Linked DNA regions of Homo sapiens: regions 1, 2 and 3 are each linked to region 4. Evidence: fine-mapped expression QTL. A gene starts in region 4. Each other region holds a variant in brackets. All regions are shown on one strand. Distances are from middle to middle.

The links. PIP is the estimated chance that this variant, and not a neighbour inherited with it, causes the effect. A credible set is the group of variants that fine-mapping cannot tell apart.
Region 1: its variant is the best candidate, but not a certain one, in a credible set for the expression of MAN1A2 in unexposed skin (GTEx, PIP 0.80).
Region 2: its variant is the best candidate, but not a certain one, in a credible set for the expression of MAN1A2 in whole blood (INTERVAL, PIP 0.64).
Region 3: its variant is the best candidate, but not a certain one, in a credible set for the expression of MAN1A2 in whole blood (TOPMed, PIP 0.80).

The regions. Positions count from the first base shown.
Region 1 is chr1:117,467,653-117,472,988 of GRCh38, forward strand. All of the region lies in intron 8 of MAN1A2 (mannosidase alpha class 1A member 2), which reads left to right. Among named protein-coding and RNA genes, the nearest start is that of MAN1A2, 100 kb to the left of the region's middle. The variant G/A (reference allele first, on the strand shown) is at 3,048.
Region 2 is chr1:117,394,301-117,399,636 of GRCh38, forward strand. The region is part of intron 1 of MAN1A2 (mannosidase alpha class 1A member 2); the gene reads left to right. Among named protein-coding and RNA genes, the nearest start is that of MAN1A2, 30 kb to the left of the region's middle. The variant G/C (reference allele first, on the strand shown) is at 2,346.
Region 3 is chr1:117,325,858-117,331,193 of GRCh38, forward strand. No RefSeq gene overlaps it. Among named protein-coding and RNA genes, the nearest start is that of LINC01525, 33 kb to the left of the region's middle. The variant T/C (reference allele first, on the strand shown) is at 2,651.
Region 4 is chr1:117,364,833-117,369,832 of GRCh38, forward strand. It overlaps MAN1A2 (mannosidase alpha class 1A member 2), which reads left to right and starts at 2,617. Exons shown (of 13, transcript NM_006699.5): 1 at 2,617-3,653. The coding sequence starts at 3,352. RefSeq lists a silencer at 1,853-2,672 and an enhancer at 3,543-3,682.

The sequences.
Region 1 (5,336 bases), 100 kb after region 4:
CCTGAGAGCTGCATTTCTAAAATGTAAAAACGTAGTTTTCTTATTTCAGATAAGAGTGACTGGATTGGATGTCTACTTAGTAATTTGGATGAATTCTATCAATCATAAATCTTTACCCCTGTGAGTTGTATTGAGATTTGAGAATATTATGATAATATAATGATATAATAATGTATATGAAAAATTATGTTCAGTTCCTGTCTTAGACTATATGCCAGTGTATATTCTATATGGTATTACTATTTAAATGTAAAAGATGAAATCATAAAAGTACTAAAAAAAGGGTTGAATATATAATCAGGAAAGCCTTTTCTAAGCATGTCATGTAAAACAGAAACTACAAAAAAAAGATGTCAGTTTTCCTGTATATTATTGTTAACCTCTGTATTAGTCTGTTCTCATGCTGCTATAAAGAACTGCCTGAGACTGGGTAATTTATAAAGGATAGAGGTTTAATTGACTCACAGTTCCACAGGGCTGGGGAAGCCTCAGAAAACTTACAATCATGGCAGAAGGGGAAGCAAACACATCCTTCTTCACATGGTGGCAGGAAGGAGAAGTGCCAAGCAAGGCGGGGAAAAGCCCCTTATAAAACCATCAGATCTTGTGAGAACTCACTCATTATCAAGAGAACAGCATGGGGGTAACATCTTCCTGTACCCACTCTCCAGAGTGTATATATTTGTATGCTTTTTGAGCCAGCAACTCATTTCCAGCAATTTATTCCAAATAAATTTTCAGAGCTATATATTAAAGTTTATTTACAATAATCTTGGGGTTGTTTATAATAGGGATAATTTGGAAGCAATCTAAAGCAGTTCTATCTAACAGAACTTTCTGTAATGAGGAAAAGATCCTATTATCTGTATTATCCAATACAGTAGTCACTAGCCACATGTGACCATGGAGCACTTGAAATGTTGCTAGTATGGTTGTGGAATTACATATTAAATTTTAATTTAATTAACTTACATTTAATTAGCTACTTGTAGCTAGTGCTTCTACATTGGACAGGGCAGTTTTTAAACGTCTTGTAATAGGGATTTGGTTAAATACATTTTGGCCTGTCCAGATATAGTATACTATGCAGCCATTAAAAGTTATATTTTAGAATACCTGACATAGATAAATGACATATCTAGAAAGATATTTAGAAAAGGAGAGGAAACACTATAGAAATAGAAACCAAAGTGTTATGTGTGGTTTTCTTTGAATTTGTGTTTTTATTTTCTCCTTTTCATTTACTGTTACTATCCAGATTTGATTATGAACATCTATTACTTTTGATGTTAGCTTAAAAACATTTTTAAATAAAAAGAGAATCCCATTTTCCATGCCAGTATAAGGATACTCAGAAAAGTAAATCACAGTTTGAGAATTGCCAGCCTTAAAATGATCAAAAGTACAACATTGATGACATGGAGGCAGGAGAGTCACTTGAACCCAGGAGGTGGAGGTTGCAGTGAACCGAGATTGTGCCACTGCACTCCAGCCTGGGTGACAGAGCGAGACCCTCTCTCAAAAAACAAAATAAAACAAAACCAAATCCAAAAAACAGAACTCTTTCTCTTCAACGTTGTGTTGAGAAAACTGGATAGCCATGTGAAAAATAATGAAGTTGAACCCTTACTCTATATTATCTACAAAAATTAACTCAAAACAGATCAAAGACTCTAAATTTGAGAACCAAAACTGTAAAACTCTTAGAAGAAAACATAGGGGAAAATCTTCGTGACCTTTGATTTGACACTGGATTCTTCAATATGACACCAAAGGCACAGGTAACAATACAAAAATAAAAGATAAATTGGATTTGATTAAAATTGAAAATTTTTGTGCATCAAAGCATACTATCTATGAGAAAGAAAGACGACCCACAGAATGAGAGAAAATATTTGCAAATCACATGTCTTTTAAGGGTCTATACACAGAATATATAAAGAACTCCTACAACTCACTAACAGAAGGCAAACTACCTACAACTCAACAACAGAAGGCGAATCACCAAATTAAATAATGGGTGAGGACTTGAATAGTCATTTCTGCAAAGAAGATATGCAAATGGAAAATAAGTACATGAAAAAGATGGTTAACATTAAAATACAAATAAACTCACTGAGATACCACTTCACAGCTACTAGGAAGACTGTAATCAAAAGGATGAAAAATAAGCATTGGCAAGGATGTGGAGAAGTTGGAACCCTTGTACACTGCTAGTAGGAATGTAAAATGGTGCAGCTGCTGTGAAAACCTAGCAGTTCCTTAAAAAGTTAAACATAGAATTACCATATGACCCAGCACTTCATCTCCTCTGTATATACCCAGAAGATTTGAAAACAGAGACTCAAACAGATACTTGTAGCCTAGTGTTCATTACATTATTTATGATATCCAAAAGGAGAAAGTAACTCAAATGTCCAACAGATGAATGGGTAAACAATATGTGAGTATAAACATACAATGGACTATTACTCAGCCATAAAAAGGAATGGAGTTCTGATACATGCTATAATATAAACAAACCTTGAAAACATTATGCTAATCAACAAAAGCCAGTCACAAAAGGACAAATATTGTATGATTCCACTTATATCAAATATCTAGAGTTGTCAAATCCATAGAGACAGAAAGTAGATTAGAGTTGACCAGAGGCTTTGGATGAGAAGAAAGTGGAGAAGAAAATGGAGAGTTATTGCTAGAGTTTGTATTTGCAGTGATGAAAATTTTTGGAAATAGGTAGTGGTGATGGTTTTACAGCACTGTGAATATAATTAATGCTGCTGAATGGTACACTTTCAAAATAGTTAAAATGGCAACTTTTGTGTTATATACATTTCATCACAATAAAATTTACAACAAAAAAGATAACTTTTATTCCTCTGTTTTTTCCTCACAAAATAAATTCAAATTACTTTATAATATATTCACTCTCAGCAGTTTTTAATTTCAGTGTTATAGAAAGAGCTATTCACTGGTTATTTTGGCAGAAGATCTTTAAAATCCTAGCGAGCTGCCCTGATATCCTTTTAGCAGCTGTAGTCCTTACA[G/A]AATTGTCCAATTTGTTCCTTTTAATGTTTTTGTATATTTTATATCAGCCTCTGAAAAGTATATCAAATTTTATTATTATCTTTGAGCTATATGCATCTGTCATATTTATAAATAGTCTGCAAAACAAACATTTAATTGAACTGAAATTTAACAATTCAGCTTTGGCTAACTGTATTATAATTAGAGTAATGATAATGTCTGTGACATGCACATAGCAATCACAGAAGATAATTACTGGTAATTACCTTCAGGAAAAGTGCTTGGCAACAGATGTAAAAGAATATAGCAAGAAACCTAGATTTAAAGGCAAATTACTAGTTTTTTTTTCTTTTCTAAAACTTTTTTTTTTGCTAGTTTTCTAAGCACAATACTTAGCCTATGTCATTTAATGATTAAAGTGAAGAAAATATAGGAAATCAGTCATTACTGATTCATTGTTTTATATTACTAAATTTATAATTGTGGAAAAAACAAGAATGGACATGTTATGCCCCTTTGAGTTAGAAAATGAATTGATTGTCTTGCTTAATAATTTAGATAATTTATTTAACTTCTCTATGCATCTTTATCTGTTCTCATTGTACTTATTTAATAGAAAATTCATGTGGATCATATTTATAATATGTTTGAAAATGCTTCAAATTAGTTTTTATTCTAGAATTTCCCATAAGAAGACTTCAAGAAATAGCTTCTGTTAGAAACCTGCCATTAACTGTATAACATGTTGAAATAAATCATATGAATCATTGCTATTTAGGAGTATTTTATAATATGTTAATCAATTTCTGAATATCAAAAGGACCTTAGAGTGACATGGTTTATCAAATTTGACATGTAGGCATATAATCTACAGGAAAGAGAAGTAGCTTCAAGTTCCTTAGTGGTATCCTTTTGCTTTAATGTAATTTCAGATGTTCTGTAAAGCAAGATGGACAGAATTCTCACTTGAGAAGGTTTTTTTTTTGTTTGTATATTTTGTTTTTATTGAAGATAATTGACAAGAAAATGTAAATTCTCTGTTCAATAATAAGGTTAATTTTGTTTTAATATGATTTGTTATTATAACATTTCTAATTCACATTCTTCCTTTTGCACTCAGTGAATATATATACTCTGTTAAAAGTTAAACAAGGCATATACCATAAGGTGTCATATTCAGATACTGAGAAGAAACCGGATCAGGTTTTGAGAAAACTAATGAAGGAACAAGATTAGTTTTATTCTGTTAAAACTGTCTATAAAATACATTGTAATAAATAGGCTAAATTAGGAAAAGGAAAGGCTTACAGCAGAAGGACATACTAGAAAGCTAATATAATACGGATCTGGATCTAGGATAGCTGTCTGTGGGAGTGGTAGTCATCATAGATTTTATCTTTCCCTTTGTATCCTACATTCATTCTTCACTAAGTCTTGTCAGTTCTGACTATTTCTGAAATATTCGTTTCCCCATTTTAACTGCACCTTTTTCCGTTTGGAATACCTTCCGCCTTCTCTATGTCCTCTTATCAATAAATTCCTACCTATTCAATGAAAACAGAAAAGGAAAATCCTAAGTTAAATAAACTATTCAAATATAGTAATCTCTCTTGCAACCACCTGTTAGGGAAAAGGAAAAATATTAGGGTATATATATAAATACCCATTAAAAGATTAATATCAATTTTATGTGTGATAGTATTATAGGAATATATTTTCTCTACAGGATGTTTGCATTCACTAATTTCACTGATACTAAATATCAACCACTGTTCCAGATGCTAGGTATATAGATGTGAACAAGTAGACAGTGTCCCTAATACCCTTGGAGAACTTACATTCTGCTGGAGAGATATGAAATAAACAAATACATGATGTGATGTAATATAATGGTAAGAATTTCTTTTTTCTTAAAGCACTTTTAGTTTCTAGGACAATACATTCTTTTGCTTTTCTCATAGCCTTACTTAGCTTCATGCTTCACTCAGTCTTTTTATTATTATTATTAGTTTTCTCCTTTTCTCCTAGCCTCTTAGTGTTGGAATGCCTTAGAGCAAGCTTGCCCAACCCAGGGCACTGGATGGCTTTGAATGCAGCCCAACACGAATTGATAAACTTTCTTAAAACATGAGATTTTTTTTTTTACAATTTTTAAAAAGCTCATCAGCTATCATTAGCGTTAGTGTATTTTATGTGTGGCTCAAGACAGTGCTTCCAGTGTGGCCCAGGAAAGCCAAAAGATTGGTGGACAACCCTGCTGTAGAGGTCAGTCCTCCATTCTCTCTTCTCTCCAGTGTCATAGTTTTAAA
Region 2 (5,336 bases), 30 kb after region 4:
CTCAATCTCCTGACCTCGTGATCCGCCCGCCTCGGCCTCCCAAAGTGCTGGGATTACAGGGGTGAGCCACTGCGCCTGGCCTTCATTTTCTCTTTTTATGTTGCTGGCTAGGACTTCTAGTACAATCAAATTGAAGCCGTGATAGTGAGCATCCTTACTTGTTTCCCTCACTTTGAGAGAGAATTACTTTTGTAGTTTATCAAGAATGTGATTTGCTGTAGTTTTTGGAGATATCTTTTATTAGGTTGAAGAAGTTCTCTTTTTCTCCATTCACTTTCTTCTTCTGTTTCTACTGAATGAGTGTAAGAGCAGAAGTGACCAAAAGGCTGGAACACTGTACTTTTGAGGGTACATTGAAGATGATAAAGCCAATGATCAGAGGCCTGTTGGTAAAGCAGGTTTGAGGAAGAGGGAGCTTCAAAGGAAGGATCAATTTTTAACAGTGGTGGATAGAAGAGTGATGTAAAGTGTAGGAAGTGGAAACAGCAAGTGTAGTACTGTTTGAAAAAGTAAAGTGAAGGAAGGAGAACACCAATGAAGGTTGAAGTGGAGGCAGTTTTGAGGGGAGTTTTTATTTATTTTTTAAGGACGGGTGAAACTTCATATTTGTAAGTAAAGGTTAAAGCTCCAGTAGAGAAGGAAAGAGTGAATATAAAGGAAAATTTCTGCCAACCAAAATTCCAGCGTAATTTTATGTATCCCTATGTAAATTAGAATCATCCAGAATGCTTCCAAACATGATTCAAGAGCCACAGCGGCTTAAGCAAGATAGAAGTTAATTTCTGTTCACACGTATGAATTCTGCAGGACAGTTTCAATAAGAGAGGCTGAGAAATAGAGTTTTTATTTAGCAGGATCATGGGTCTAGCCAAAACTTGAGGGCTCTAGGACTAAGGAGGAAGAAAGAAAAGATTTTGGGAGACAGTTTTCAGTATCTGCACAGTAAGTGTGAGAAAACTCTTAAATAAAATTTATCTCTCTCAGTATTTGCATAGTGTTTAAGAAGTCAAAATGCATTTGTTTATATCTAGACTCTACTTACTAGCTCCTTGACCCTGAACAAACTATTTTTCTCTTTGTGCCTTAATTTTTTCATAACAAGGTAGAGAATAATGGTGTTTGATAGAGAGTACCTCATAAGTTGGTATGATAATTAAATAAGATAATATATGTAATTGATGAAGCCATTGCCTTGTACATCTAAGCCACAATTACTAGTTTTGTTGTCATTTGCCCTTGCTCTTCAAGGATCAGGGATGTGTTGAAGGACAAAACACAAAAAAACAAAATAATATAACAAAAACAACAAACAAAACCTTATATTACTTATGGGATATCCAAAAGTTAATTAAATATTACACATTAAGATACAATTGAAAAGAGTAACTTCAAATCTCATGAGAACTTGTAGATATAAAACTAGATTTTTTTGGAAACCTTGGAAGGTACTCAGCCAAACTGCAAAGTTTGAGGACACAGTTCTTCACATGACCACTCTCACATCTGGCACCACTTGCAAATTCAGAGGGCTCCCCAGACCACCCTCTGGCTTGATAATTTGCAAGGACTCACAAAGGGATTACAGATTACAGGGATCCAGATTAAAATCAGCCAAGGGAAGAAACACATAGGGTGAAGTCAGGAAAGTTCCAAATGTTGATCTGCCAGTGTCCTTTTCCCATGGAGTCAGGACATGTTCTTCCAGCACCAATGTGTGACAGTATGCATGATTGCCAACCTGGTAACCTCATCCAAGCTTCAGTGTATAGAGTTTTATGGGGCTTCATTATGTAGGCATCATTGATTGATTACTCAATTACCTGTATGGTTGAACTCAGTCTCCCAATGGACTGATACTGTGTAACCCAGAGCCTTGTCCTAAGCCATATTGTTGGTGTTTATGACATGGCCAGCTTTTGCTTTAAAACTATTAGTTGTGGCCAACCCTACCTGAAGATCTGGTATGGCCAGCACCCATAATAAACAAGCACACTTCTATCAACTATGACACATTACCTCCCAGAAGCTGAAGTCAATGGTGAGACTTCTCTTTGGACAAGGCCAAATTCTTTACTACACAGGAAGATACAAGACACTGATGAAAAGGAATGATCTTTACAAATGAAAGTCTAACATAATTATCTGTTGAAAATACCAAAGTTAAAAACAATCTTAAAAATATGTATATAAGAGAAAGATCATCCAAGTGAAAATAAAACCCCCAGCTGGAGTAATTTAAAAATCTAGAAATTTGGCTGCCAAAGCAAAATTTGAGGAACCATTTGCATGGAGATCAAAATGAAAATAAAATTTTGAGTCATATAGAGAAGAAAACTAGCAAGAAA[G/C]TTCATAGTGCTACTAAATAATTATTGTGAAAACTCAAGGAAAAGAAATAAAGCACATTATTTGCTTTGGCAGTTGTAAAGATTGCTGCATTAACTTGTAATTTGGAACAGAGAGGTTAGAAGGATTGAAATTATTGACTTACATGTGTATAGAACATTACTTTTTACTTGATTCCAAGGTAAGTACAAGGAAGTACTTAGCAAAAAAGGGTTATAGTGCTTTTAAAGTGGTATAGTCAGGGTAGTGTATGTTTTCCTATCTCTGTTAATGAAGGTACTAATCATAGAGGTTTTTTTTTTTTTTAGTGATTGTTCCAGGTTGTAGTGTGAGGCATGGGCAGAGATGGAACTAAAATCTTTGTCTCCTGACTTTTGGGTTAAGTATACTTTTTTTCTAACTGCAAAATGATTCCTCTTGGAACCCAGTTAATAGGAGGTCTGACTGAATTTCCTGGAACTCTGGAGTTTCTCTTAGGACCAGTCTGGTTAGTCTTTTCTTGCCCTCTAGTTGATATTGGTTCTTCTGAAATAGTTTACTCACTAAACTCTTAAGCAAATAGTGCTTGTTGAGGAACAAATAAAAATAAATCTATAGATTATTTAGATTTTCAAAATGTGTTTGAATAAGGCTCTTCACAATATTGCAACAACATAGGTTCTGATGAGCAAAGTTTGACTGCTGTAACAATAACAAGTGGGATAAGATGATTGGAGCTTTCCTTTAGAGCAAACATTTAGAGGGCTCAATTTTTTATTTTTAAAAATAATTATAAAAATTATTATACATGTTGCTATCAAATGTACTTTGCACCTGTGGAGGAACAACTGATGCTAACACGAAGTTAATAGCAATAGTAAGTGAAAATGGAAAACTGTTACATGGCAGTGTTATTAAGGGGTCTCACCATAACACCTTGTCATTAATTTTAATATGGATTTTAATATTTAATATGCATTTGTATTGCCTACCCTGTAGTCAGAGCCGCTGTTTATAACCCCCTTTTTTTTTTTTTTTTTTTTTGGAGACGTAGTTTCGCTTTTGTTGGCCCAGGCTGGAGTGCAATGTCACGATCTCAGCTTAGTGAAACCTCCGCCTCCCAGGTTCAAGCAATTCTCCTGCCTCAGCCTCCTGAGTAGCTGGGATTACAGGCACCTACCACCATGCCCAGCTAATTTTTGTATGTTTAGTAGAGACGGGGTTTCACCATGTTGGCCAGGCTGGTCTCGAACTCCTGACCTCACGTGATCCACCCGCCTTAGCCTCCCAAAGTGCTGGGATTACAGGTGTGAGCCACCACACCCGGCCTTACAACTCTTTTGACTGTTTGTAGCCTCATGATGGTATATAGACTTTGTATATCATATTTACTTCAGATGGGGTCTTAGAATCTGTATTTGCATTTTAGTATTTTTAAACACCTATTATATGCCAGGTAGTGTCCTAGGCATTGAGGGATATGTTGGAACAAAAATCAGATAGGGTCTCTGAACTTAATGGAGTTAATAGTCATCAGGAGAGACAGGCATTACTCAAAGAATCACATGTGGTTAAGTACTATGAAGGAAAGATACATGGTGCCATCAGACTGTATATTAGGGAGATTTGTCTAATCTAGGAGAAGTTATGATTGATCAGTGACTTGAAGGTAAAGAAGAAATTGTAAGAGTGTTTTAAGCGAGGAAACCTCATGCATATGGGGCTATTGATGGGAAAGAAAATGGTGTGTAAAAGAACTGAAAGAAGGTGGCTGGGCACGGTGGCTCATGCCTGTAATCCCAGCACTTTGGGAGCCTGAGGTGGGTGGATTGCCTGAGCTCAGGAGTTCATGACCAGCCTGGGCAACATGGTGAAACCCCGTTTCTACTAAAATACAAAAAATTAGCCAGGCGTGGTGGCGTGTGCCTGTAGTCCCAGCTTGTTGGGAGGCTGAAGCAGGAGACTCTGTTGAATCTGGGAGGCAGAGGTTGCAGTGAGCCGAGATCGTGCCACTGCACTACAGCCTGGGTGACAGAGGGAGACTCTATTTCAAAAAAAAAAAAAAGAACTGAAAGAAGGTGTGTGGCTGTAGAACAGAGAGCTAGAGGAGTATGTATGAGATGAAGCTTGAGAGATAGATAGAAGCTACATTATACAGAATTTCTTAATAGGCCATAATATAATAGAATTCCTTAGGATAAGGGAAGCCATGAAGTGTTTTAAGTGAGAGTGAGGCATAGTCTGAATAATTTCAGAAAGCACATTGGGTCTATAGTATGGATGGAGAATAGCTTGTGGGTGGGTTGGAGAGTGGTTGGAGAGTGAATGTGTGAAGACTATTGGAAGCGTATTACAGTAGTTTAGGTGAGGCATGATGGTAGCCTCCTTATTGTGGTTCCATCGCATGCTAAAAAGAGTATGCAGAAAAGGAGGACTATGACTAAGTAAGTTCAAGAAGTGTTGTGTTAGGCAACTCTATTGCAGAACTTCTCAGGGCTTTTAAAATGCCCATGTGCGTGGTGAAGCTCTGTGAGGGGATATGGGATGTTTTGTGGCATATATGTCTTGCCCCCCACAGGGTGGACTCTAGAAAATGGTGTGTAATACCTGTTCGTGGAAGCTCACTGGTAGGTGAAGATGCTTTCTGAGTGATAACATATGAGCTATTGCAAACATGGTCGGGGATTCCACATGCCATTTAGCAATAACTTGGGGATAATGTGGTACGTGGAGATAGAAATGGAAAGCTTGTTTTCCTGGGGCAATCTCCCCATTTGTCATCAGGACAGAAAATTACCCTTGAAAGAGCCAGTCTTCCCCATTTGATGTTGCTCTTCTTTGGGGCCCATTTCCAGGTCCTCTGTTTTTCTGAATCTGTGTGCCTGCTTGCACAGTGAGTGGGTGAGTTGGGGAAATTCTCAGCTGGAAATGTCAGAATACCCATTGATAGTTACTCCATAGAATCTGAAATCTGGGGACAATTGAGGGCCGTGGTGGTAACTCATGATAGCAAG
Region 3 (5,336 bases), 39 kb before region 4:
TAATCTTGTTATAATCCTGAGTGAAAAATGGAGGACACAAAATATGTAGGAAGAGAGAAAAACAAAGAGCAGACTCTTTTATGAGTGATTTTCAGCATGTCATTAGGTATTTTTATACTTCTAAAATATTTTCTAAACTGTCTACAATAAGCAAGTATGATCTTATGAAACTATTAATTTTCAAAAAGAATATATTACTTTAAAATAAATACCTTCAATAGGCTGGGCGTGGTGGCTCATGCTTGTAATCTCAGCACTTTGGGAAGCCAAGGTGTGTGGATCACCTGAGGTCAGGAGTTCAAGACCAGCCTGGACAACATGGCAAAACCTTATCTCTACTAAAAATACAAAAATTAGCTGGGCGTGGGTGCGTGCCTGTAATCCCAGCTACTCAGGAGGCTGACGCAGGAGAATCGCTTGAACCTGGGAGGCAGAGGTTGCAGTGAGCCAAGATTGTGCACTGCACTCCAGCCTGGGTGACAGAGCAAAACTCTGTCTCAAAAAATAAAAATAAGGGGCCAGGGGTGGTGGCTCAAGCCTGTAATCCCAGCACTTTGGGAGGCTGAGGCAGGCGGATCACGAGGTCAGGAGATCGAGACCATCCTGGCTAGCATGATGAAACCCTGTCTCTACTAAAAATACAAAAAATTAGCCGGGCGTGGTGGCAGGCACCTGTAGTCCCAGCTACTCGGGAGGCTGAGATAGGAGAATGGCGTGAACCCGGGAGGCGGAGCTTGCAGTGAGCCAAGATCACGCCACTGCACTCCAGCCTGGGCGACAGAGCGAGACTCCATCTCAAAAAAATAAATAAATAAAAATAAAAATAAATAAATAAACATCACTGATACATTTATTTGCATGTATAGTGTATTTCACAATATAATTTTTAAAAACATGACTTTGGATCATATTTTTTAAAAAGACAAAATATACGCAAAGTTTTGAGAAACTATGATCCATGTGGAGGTCAGGGGTGTGTCGGTCCTCATATAGACAGGGTGGAATAATTGTAACTACACTAAGGAGTTGTCCATCAACTGTCCATGTGGAAGGAGGCAGTGGCAGGGTAAAATCTGGAGTCAGCTTTTAAATTTCTGTCAGCGAAGCTTGACCTTGTTTCATTAGTGCAGGAGACTGTTTGTAGATAGTGGCTTCCTGAATTTTACAGACAAGCCTCATGATGAGAAAAGAACTGAAATTACAGATGATGAGATAGATATTTAATAGACAAGAACAGCTGATATGTAGAAAGTGGGATGCTGAGTCATAAGTTAAAATGCATAATTTAATTATTAGAGATAATCAGTAAATCTTTACATCCAGGAACAGAATAAAATACAAATTACATAGTCAGCACAATTCAGGGCTTACAAGCTATGAGACTAAAGCAAAATAACAAAAAATGGCAGCTAAGTTAATTGACCATTTCCATTTTATTAATTGGAGAATGATATGGCAATCATTTAAATGGAAAAGAACCATATTTTGTGGAAAATACATATTAACCATTCCAGATACTTTCTTCAGTAAAATATTTTCTTCCTGTTATCAGAGTATTTTTATTATTGGTGCTCTTAATATTTAAAAAGTATGCGATATCTCTGGCCCTTAATTTTCTCATCTGTAAAATAAGGGTGTTGGGGCACTAGTTTTAGTACTTCATTCTATGAGAGTGGTACTGCAAAATTTTCACAAATGTTTTATTCCATTTCATGGAAGCTGATGTTGACAAAGACTGTGATCGTTATCCATATTCCTGGATTTCAGTTTCTGTTTCTCAAACAGCCTTATTGATCTTATTGATAAGCCTTACAATTAACAAATAGTATACATTCAAGCTTATAAAATAAATGTATTCTGATGTTTCAGAATGGTTTTACTTGTTGAGTTCTTTATAAGATTTTGTTGGGGGAAACATGGTTTTATTGCTTACACAACAACAACAACAAAATTGGAAAGGATTGAGCTTCAAGGTTTGCCTGGCACTCAGACTCTGAGAGTATATACAAGCAGCATTCCTAAGCTTGTAGGTCCAAGAAGTAGTAGATGCAGGCTTTGCCCTAACCTCGCTCATCACCTCGAAATAATACCCTTGAAGGACTAGGGCCCATTTCCCCACACCACTTTCCACTTTAAAATGTCACTCAAAGGATCTAACGGTCTCTTTGCCCTTTTTGAACTGTCCCACAAGGGAAGAAGATCATGCTATATCTTTAGGTGAAAAAAGCAAACTACAAGGAAATATGAATACTTCCATCTATTTTATAAAAAAAAATGTAGCTGAATCTAGACAGATAAGTGCTAGAAAGATATAGATTGTGTTACCTTTATAGATGCACTAGGTGCTATATGAAGCGCTCTTTTTTTAAACTCATGTTTTGTCCTCAGTCTCTCAAATGAGGCAGATATTATTATCATCTTCATTTTACAGATGAGGAAACTGATGCATAGCAATTATTTATAAAACTTACCTTACAAATGCATAGAAAAAAATTCTGGAAGCATTTACTCTAAAAGTTGTAAGACTATGTGTGATGTTTGCTCTTTTGCCTGTGTATAATTTCTAAAAAGAGTTTGTATCACTTATGTAACAAAGTGAACGGGGAGACTGTCAGTTCCCACGTTCGCGGGGAGACTGTCAGTTCCCATG[T/C]TCATTTTCCCATGTTCTCATTTGGCGTGTGAGCAGTGGAGGGCTTGGAATCACAGACCCCGCCCTGCTTGGGAATGGGACAATGATCCGTTAAGATTTGCAGATGGTTTTCTGCTCTGTGTTATATGGGATGGTAGCAATTTTTATTCAATTGGAAGGAAGGGCTGGGTGCAATGGCTCATGCCTACAATTTCAACACTTTGGGAGGCTGAGGCAGGAGGATCGCTTGAGCTCAGGAGTTCAAGACCAGCCTGAGCAACAAAGTGAGACCTCCGTCTTTCCAAACATTTAAAAATTAGCTGGGCATAGTTGTGCCTGGCTGTGGTCCCAGCTGCTTGGGAGGCTGAGGTGGGAGGATTTCTTGAGTCTAGGAGGTCAAGGAAGTCAAGGCTGCAGTGAGCCGGGATCATGCCACTGCACTTCAACCTGGGCAACAGAGCAAGACCATGTCAAAAACAAACAAACAAAAAAACCATTGGCAAGAAGAAGTGGTTACAATAATTTGGAAAGAACCCTTGCTCTAGGCCGCTTGCATTTTATTAAGGGTGAGTCTTCAACCTTCCCTAGCAGGCTAGGATTATTCTGTCAGAGCCAAACCCCAGATAAGTCAGGCTTGCAGAAAATGTGTATTCATCTACCTGGTTCTATGAGAACCAGGGAACTAGTGCTAGCTCATGCCACTATTCTATTGAACTGCTTATTTTTGGTTTGTGTTATTAATATGCATTGTTTAACTTCTTCAATGAGATTATAAATTCCTGGGTGGAAGTGATGCTCTGGGAAATACCTCTTCATTTTTCCCAGAATGGATTAAACATAAAAAGTACACTTTTTATGGTACTTGAATGAAATGGAATCAAATATATATATATATATAAATAAAATGGTAGATTTTGGCAATTTGGGGTATTTATTTTCTGTAACAAATAAATCAATAAACAAAAAATGGAAGTGTCTTCCCTTTCCCTTCCCTTCCTTTTCCTTTCCCTTCCCTTCTTCTTTCTCTTCCCTTCTCCTTTCTGAGCAATTCCATCCTAAATCCATTGTATGGAGCAGAGAAAGGTAGACATCCATTCAGATGGGTGGCCTGGTGTGGGATGTCAGAGCCCAGATGGGATGGGGGCTCTACTCAGGGACAGGGGCAGCAATGATGATAAGATATTGGCTATATACAGGGGATTTGATCTAATAAAAAAATTAAAAATAATGGGAACTAAGGTTCTCGTTGTAGAAGAGAGTTAGAAATAAGGAAAGGGAGAAAACTAGAATGAACACTGTGGTGTTGAATTGATATTGGAGATACCAGTGTGAACTCATGGATTTCAGTAAATATATGTAAATATGGAAATAAATTCAGATGTAAATGTGTTTATGTATATCTTTGTCAATACGTGTGTGTCTGTGTGTGTCTATCTGTGTGTATATTCCTTACCTAAATACTTTTCTTTGTTGTGTTTTCAATTCCACATTTAATTCATCTGGGATTTATTTTTATGTGCAGTATGAGATGGGTGCCACATTTTTTTGACCAAATAGCCAGCCAATTTTCCCAACACTGTTTATTAAACAATTCACCTATCTTCATTGATCTGAGATGCTTCCATTCTGATATGCACATATTAGGTTGACTGTAAACATCTTAGAAAAGCAACATTGATCTTGTTAATGATGGAGCAATGCTGACACATCTCCATTTCTCCTGCTCTAACATCTTGGGCATCAATAGCCTATTTCCAACTGAGTGTTCAAAAGACATCCTTAAGGTCAACATTTCCCAAACTAAACTGATCCCATTTGTCTTCATGAATTCCTGACCTCAGAAAACAACATCATCAGCAGCCTAACTGCCCAGTGATCTTTCAACTACTCTGACCCTGTCCTCCCCTCTCACTGTTAAATCTCTTCCTTCTTTCCCTATTCTCTGCAACTCCTGAGTTTGGACTTTTCTCATGAGCTATTATGATTATATTATATTTGTTTCCAATGTAATATTGAAAATCTTTCAAAAATTGAAAGAATCCATGAGAAAATAAAGCATTTGGCCTGTTTGACAGTCAGGGCTGATTTGAAGAATCTGAGTGACCAGATCCCATCTAATCTACCTTTCACACTGATTTCTGAATAATAAATAGAAATAATAAGTAAATAAATATAATATAGTCATATGGGCCTGTGCCTGTGATTCTGCAACTCAAAAACCTTCAAGTCTGTGTGTTGTCTTAAACACCATAGCTGAACATTCAAGGTCACTGGGGTTGACCTTCTAGATGTTCTTTCTTCTGCCTGACTTGCACTTTCATCACTTGTATTAAGCTCCGGTCCTGGAACATGCCAAATATTTTCCCAATTTTGTACTTTTTTGCCTTGCATGGAAAGCTGCCCCTTTCCCCTCTATCAAAAATTGTATTATCTTTTAAGGTCCAGCTTAAACACAGCCCTCTTCCATAAAGTGTTTCCCTAATCCTCCAGCTGGAATTATTACTTACCACCTGTTTTCAAAGCACTATGTTTGTGCTGTATTGTATTATGTGTTTCATTATGCTTAGTATGGAAGTGCTATAACCTTGGTTTTCAGATCCAGATTTTAGCCCCTGAAGCCAGGACTGCATCTTTGTTACCTCTGACCACTGCCTGCAGCTAGCAGTTTTAGTACACTCACTTTGGCACCTAGCTAAGTGCTCTTACC
Region 4 (5,000 bases):
TGTGTTCATCTTGATACTACCGAGTCTACCTATTTGAAATTTGACCTTAACTTTTTCAGGCACCAGTTCCTTTATAATTTTTATTTAATTGTAAATATAATGCAACAGAATACAATGGAGAAAATCATACGTAAAACCAGTATCTTAACAGAATAGTTGCAATCTTTTTCAAATATTCTTTTTCTATGTTTTTAAGTGCATATAATTATAATTAATGGATACATTTGCAACTTTTTTTTTTTTAAACAACATGATTCTTTAAAAACTCAGACTTGCCTTTAGAAGAGTGGATATATGTAATACTATGTATACAGTATTTTCATTGCTGGTGTAGGAGTGTGATAACTGACGGTATCATCAATGACTTTAAAATTGCTGGCTGCATTTGGACATCTGCAATAACCCCTAAATTGTTTTTACTCTCATGAAGGAAAAATGAATTTTGCAAAACAGACAAGCAAAGGAAAAGGGGTCTTCTCCATCAGCAATGAGGTCTTACTTGCTTAAGCTATACTTGTCAACTAGGTTATGTCAGGTTTCATGATTGAAATCTCTTGTGGTTAAGTCTAGTGTTAACCTAGGTAATATTTATTTTTCAAGATTTATATAACTTGCTATTTCATTCAGAGTTCAGTATTTATTTCCCCTGAACTTTTCATGGAAACTAATGATCTCAACAGTAGGAAAACAGTGTGTTCTTCCCCGCCTCCCCACCGCCCCCCCCACTTTGGCTTACGGAGTCTCAACATTAGAGACTTATTCTTAAATTTGGCACATTTTATAAAGACATATTGGGAAGGCTAAAAGTTTCTTATATCTACTCTTCACAAATGTTCAACATAAATCTCACTAGGGACCGGGCACTCCTTGCTTACCAGTCTCCCTGGGTGAACTGGTGAGAGGTGGCCCTCAATATTTTTACTTTTTATTTGGTGAAGCAGGATCAATGACAATGACTTTTGTCATGTGGTAGGCAGTTAGATATGCAGAGCTTCTAGAAATAATGCAGACTGGGAGACTGGAATGTAGTTACAAGTGTGCCAATGAACATGAGACTTTTCTGCTTGATTTTTAAGCTAAGGCTGACTTACTCTCCTGACATTTAAGGGCCTCCTCTCCAATTCCCAGTCATCAGTAAAGGATGTGTACAGGGAATGACAATATTAGAACAAAAACAACCTGCAAGTAAATCGGATGCAAGAGTCTATGTATCTTGCAAGGAAATCTTTTGCACTTAATCACAACATGGCTCTCCTCAATACTACGGAGAACAGAATTGATTCAGATTGTTTTTAAGCCTGAACGTAAACAATATTGTCGCCTTTTTGGGTTTCAGCACCTCCTTATTCATCCATTTTCTCTTTTATGGGAAGGGGGTTGATGAGGTGTGTGAAGATGATAGAACGTGCCCCAGAAACTGAACAATGAAGAGACGCCTGTCATATCGGGGGTACCTAGATTCCTCTGAAAGGAAGCCCAGCTGAAGGAGCAGGGTCACCACTTTATTTTAAAAACGTAACATGGCACATGTTGGTGCTCTATTAATCGAGCCTCGGGGGCCCAATAACGTGAGCATGGGCTGCTGCGTGGAAGTTTGAGACCCTGTTGCTGAATCCTCGGGCCTGACGGTCTATCGCTGAAGACAAGACTTCCAAAGAATCACAGTAAACGTTAACCTAAGCCATCAGAAGCCATTAACTCCGGTGACACTACATTTCAGCGAAACCTTCGCGACCCAACCCCTCGCTCCCTCTCGCCCAAACGCTGGGTCAACCCCACGAACTGGCGGTGGCAAGGCCCTGGGCACCGGTGAAGTTCTCGTGGCAGCGCAGATCGGCGACCTTCTCTTCTTTCGCGCTCAGACGGCGGCGGCAGCAGTACGCTTTCGGGCTGCTGGAGCCGGCAGCGGCGCGAGGCCGGAGCCCGGGCAGCCAGGCTGGGTGGGGGAGGGGCGGCGGCAGCGGAGCCGGGAGCGTGCGCGCGCACCTCACACTCCGCCGCCCGGGGACGCCCACTCGCGAGCCGGGGCCGGTAGGCCGGCCCGGGTCCCATCGCCCCCGCCCTCCGGTTCCTCTCCGGCGTGAGCCCAACGGGTGTCGGCCCAGCAGCTGCTGCGCTCACCAGGCCTGGGGAGGCAGGGTACGGGGACCGGGCCGCAGCCCCGAGCGGCGTGGGCGCGCTGCCTCTCTGGCAGCCGCCGCCAGAGCCAGCAGCTGCGAGCCACCGGAGGCGGCGCGGAGGAGGCCCCCGCGGCCGGGCAGGAAGGAGACGCGGCCGACCTCTGCCCGCCCGAGGCGCGGCTGCTCCCGCGCGCCCAGGCCCTCCCGCCGCTCCAGGGCTGAGTGAGGAATGAGCCGGCGCCTACCCCGGGCTCTCGGAGCGTGGGCCCCGGCTCGGCTTCTTAGGCGCGAGGGCTCGGCCACTGCGGCCGGCGGCCTAGCTCGGGGAGCAGGCGCCGGGGTTCACTGAACCGGCCGCGGAGAGGAGGAGGAGGAGGAGGAAGAGGAGGAGGAGGAGGAGGAGGAGCTCGGCGGGGGCGGCCGCCGCGCCTCCCCTCCCCCAGGACACGCCGGGGCTTCTCAGTGGCCGCCGGAGGAGGAAGTTCCGCTCCCTGACAGACCCGTGCGGTAGCAACAGCGGCGGCGGCCGCGGCGGCTGGCCGGACTCAGGTGTTTCGGACGCTATTGCCCTTCGCGCCAGCCGTCGAGTGGGCAGCAGCGGGACTCAGCCGGGCGCCAGGTTCCTGCCAGGCAGCGCCGGGAAGCGCGGGCGGCCGAGAACTCCTTCCTGCTACTTCGCCCAGCGCCGCTGCTTCGGCTTCCCAGCGAAGTGGGAGACCTTCCTCCCTGTTTGCAGACGTCCGTGGGAGACCCTTATTTTTTCCACCGCTAAGGTTAAGAGATTCTGGAATAGAAGCGTCGAAGGAGATCAAGTGAACCTTCTACAACTCCTCGGATGTCGCCAGTCTCCCTTTCGGGGCGGAAGACTACGTTTGAGCATCTCACTGAGGTGCAGGAATGGAAGAACCCACCTTGCAGCTTTTCTGCAGTGTGGCTTGCCTGATCTACCCCTAGGAATGAAGAGGAGGCTTGTAATAATCCGATGAAGTACAGATGTTGAAGAGGATATCGCAGGACCTAAACTTGTGATCGTTTGGGGGAGGTCACACACGTTTCTGAGTGGGAATGGATGGGCGTGAATGACGTGCCCTCTTAAAAAGCACAACAGTCCTTTAAGAGGAGCAAAATTGAGTTTTCCCATTTTGGCCAAGATTTTGAAGACAGTTCAATGTATTCTACATTTGACATAAGATGAGAACTTTCTAAAGTATTCTCTCCAAGAGCGTAAACGATGACTACCCCAGCCCTGCTGCCCCTCTCTGGACGTAGGATACCACCTCTGAACCTGGGGCCGCCTTCCTTCCCACATCACAGGGCTACCTTGAGACTTTCTGAGAAGTTTATTCTTCTCCTTATTCTTAGTGCCTTCATCACTCTGTGTTTTGGGGCATTCTTTTTCCTTCCAGACTCTTCAAAACACAAACGCTTTGATTTGGGTTTAGAAGATGTGTTAATTCCACATGTAGATGCCGGTAAAGGGGCTAAAAACCCCGGAGTCTTCCTGATCCATGGACCCGATGAACATAGACACAGGTTTGTTTATTTCAGAAGTTCTGGTACTAACATTTGGCAGAGCAAGGTACGGTGATTGGATCGAATCTGTCTTTTTTTTTTCTTGCAGTAAAATGTAATTTTTCGAGTCATAAATATTGTATTGTTACTTCAAGACTGGCTGAATAAAACCATAGACTGGAGGGACTCTACCTCCAGTCTATGGTAGAGTCCATAGACTGGTAGGACTGGAGTCCTACCTAAGTCGTTCTTCTCTTCGGTTTTATATAAGAAAAACATTTGCGTTCAGAGTTGTGTCTAATGTGGACATCTGGGAAGGGAGGTATGAAAACTTAACCTAAAGAAATGGTGACATAAGCTGTGCCTGCATTTATTAATAACGTGTTGGAGTCAGTCATTGTGCCACCATGTGAAATCAAAGCATCGAACCTTGACAGCTCTTTTGGGTGTGCTCTCCCAGAGGGCTCTCGTTTTCTGGCTTGTAGTTGAAGCTTAGTAGTGAGTCAGCTTTTTAGGATGACAAACGTGGGCAGAATATACCTGTCATTTCTTAACGTGAAAATATCCTGATTTTTGTTCTTTTTTTGGGGATGTGTGTTGGTGCTGTATATGAAATCAGTTAAGTTAAAAGGTATTGAATCCTAAGTTATTGCACTTTGTGAGGCTTGTAGACAAGATTTATTTTTGTGAAACTTAATTTTGCTCTCTCTTTTAATGTAATAGATGGACTGTGTCAAGCAACTATTGGAATTTGGTTGATTAAGGGGTTCACATTCTTTCAGATCACTAAATCTAAAGTGAGCTCTGGGGAGAGCATAGCCAAACTAGGATAAAATGGGAGCTCTAGTTACAATTTTTATAATTTTTATATTTGTACTCAAGAGTTTGGGAAAGTAGTTGACTTTTCTTAAACCTGCCATCTTTTCCTTGTTTCTTAAAATAATTCTTGAGTATGTGGGAAAAAAAATCATGTGCTTGAATTCATTTCCCATCTGATGATAGTTTTAACTTTTTGTCAAGCACCGAAAAAGCTTAGGTTCACGTGTAAGCCTACATTAAATATTTGGGAAAATGCACTGTTTTATGAGAACTGGTTTTTCTTTTTTTCTCAACCTAGTTAATTCATTACTTGTGTGATGGTTCTTTGACTTTTGGATGAATTTTATGGAGTAGTTACTTCTAATATTGTTTCATGCCATTCTTTTGTAACTAAGTTAATTTGGAATTTTTGCCATTTTCGACTACTGTACTCCTGTATTTGTTTCTTTAATTTTGCACTTTGCTTGTTGTGACTTTAAGAAAACACTAATATGATCTGTGAAATATGTTACTGAAAAATTAACGGTGAAAGTAGTTTTCCTTGAAAAT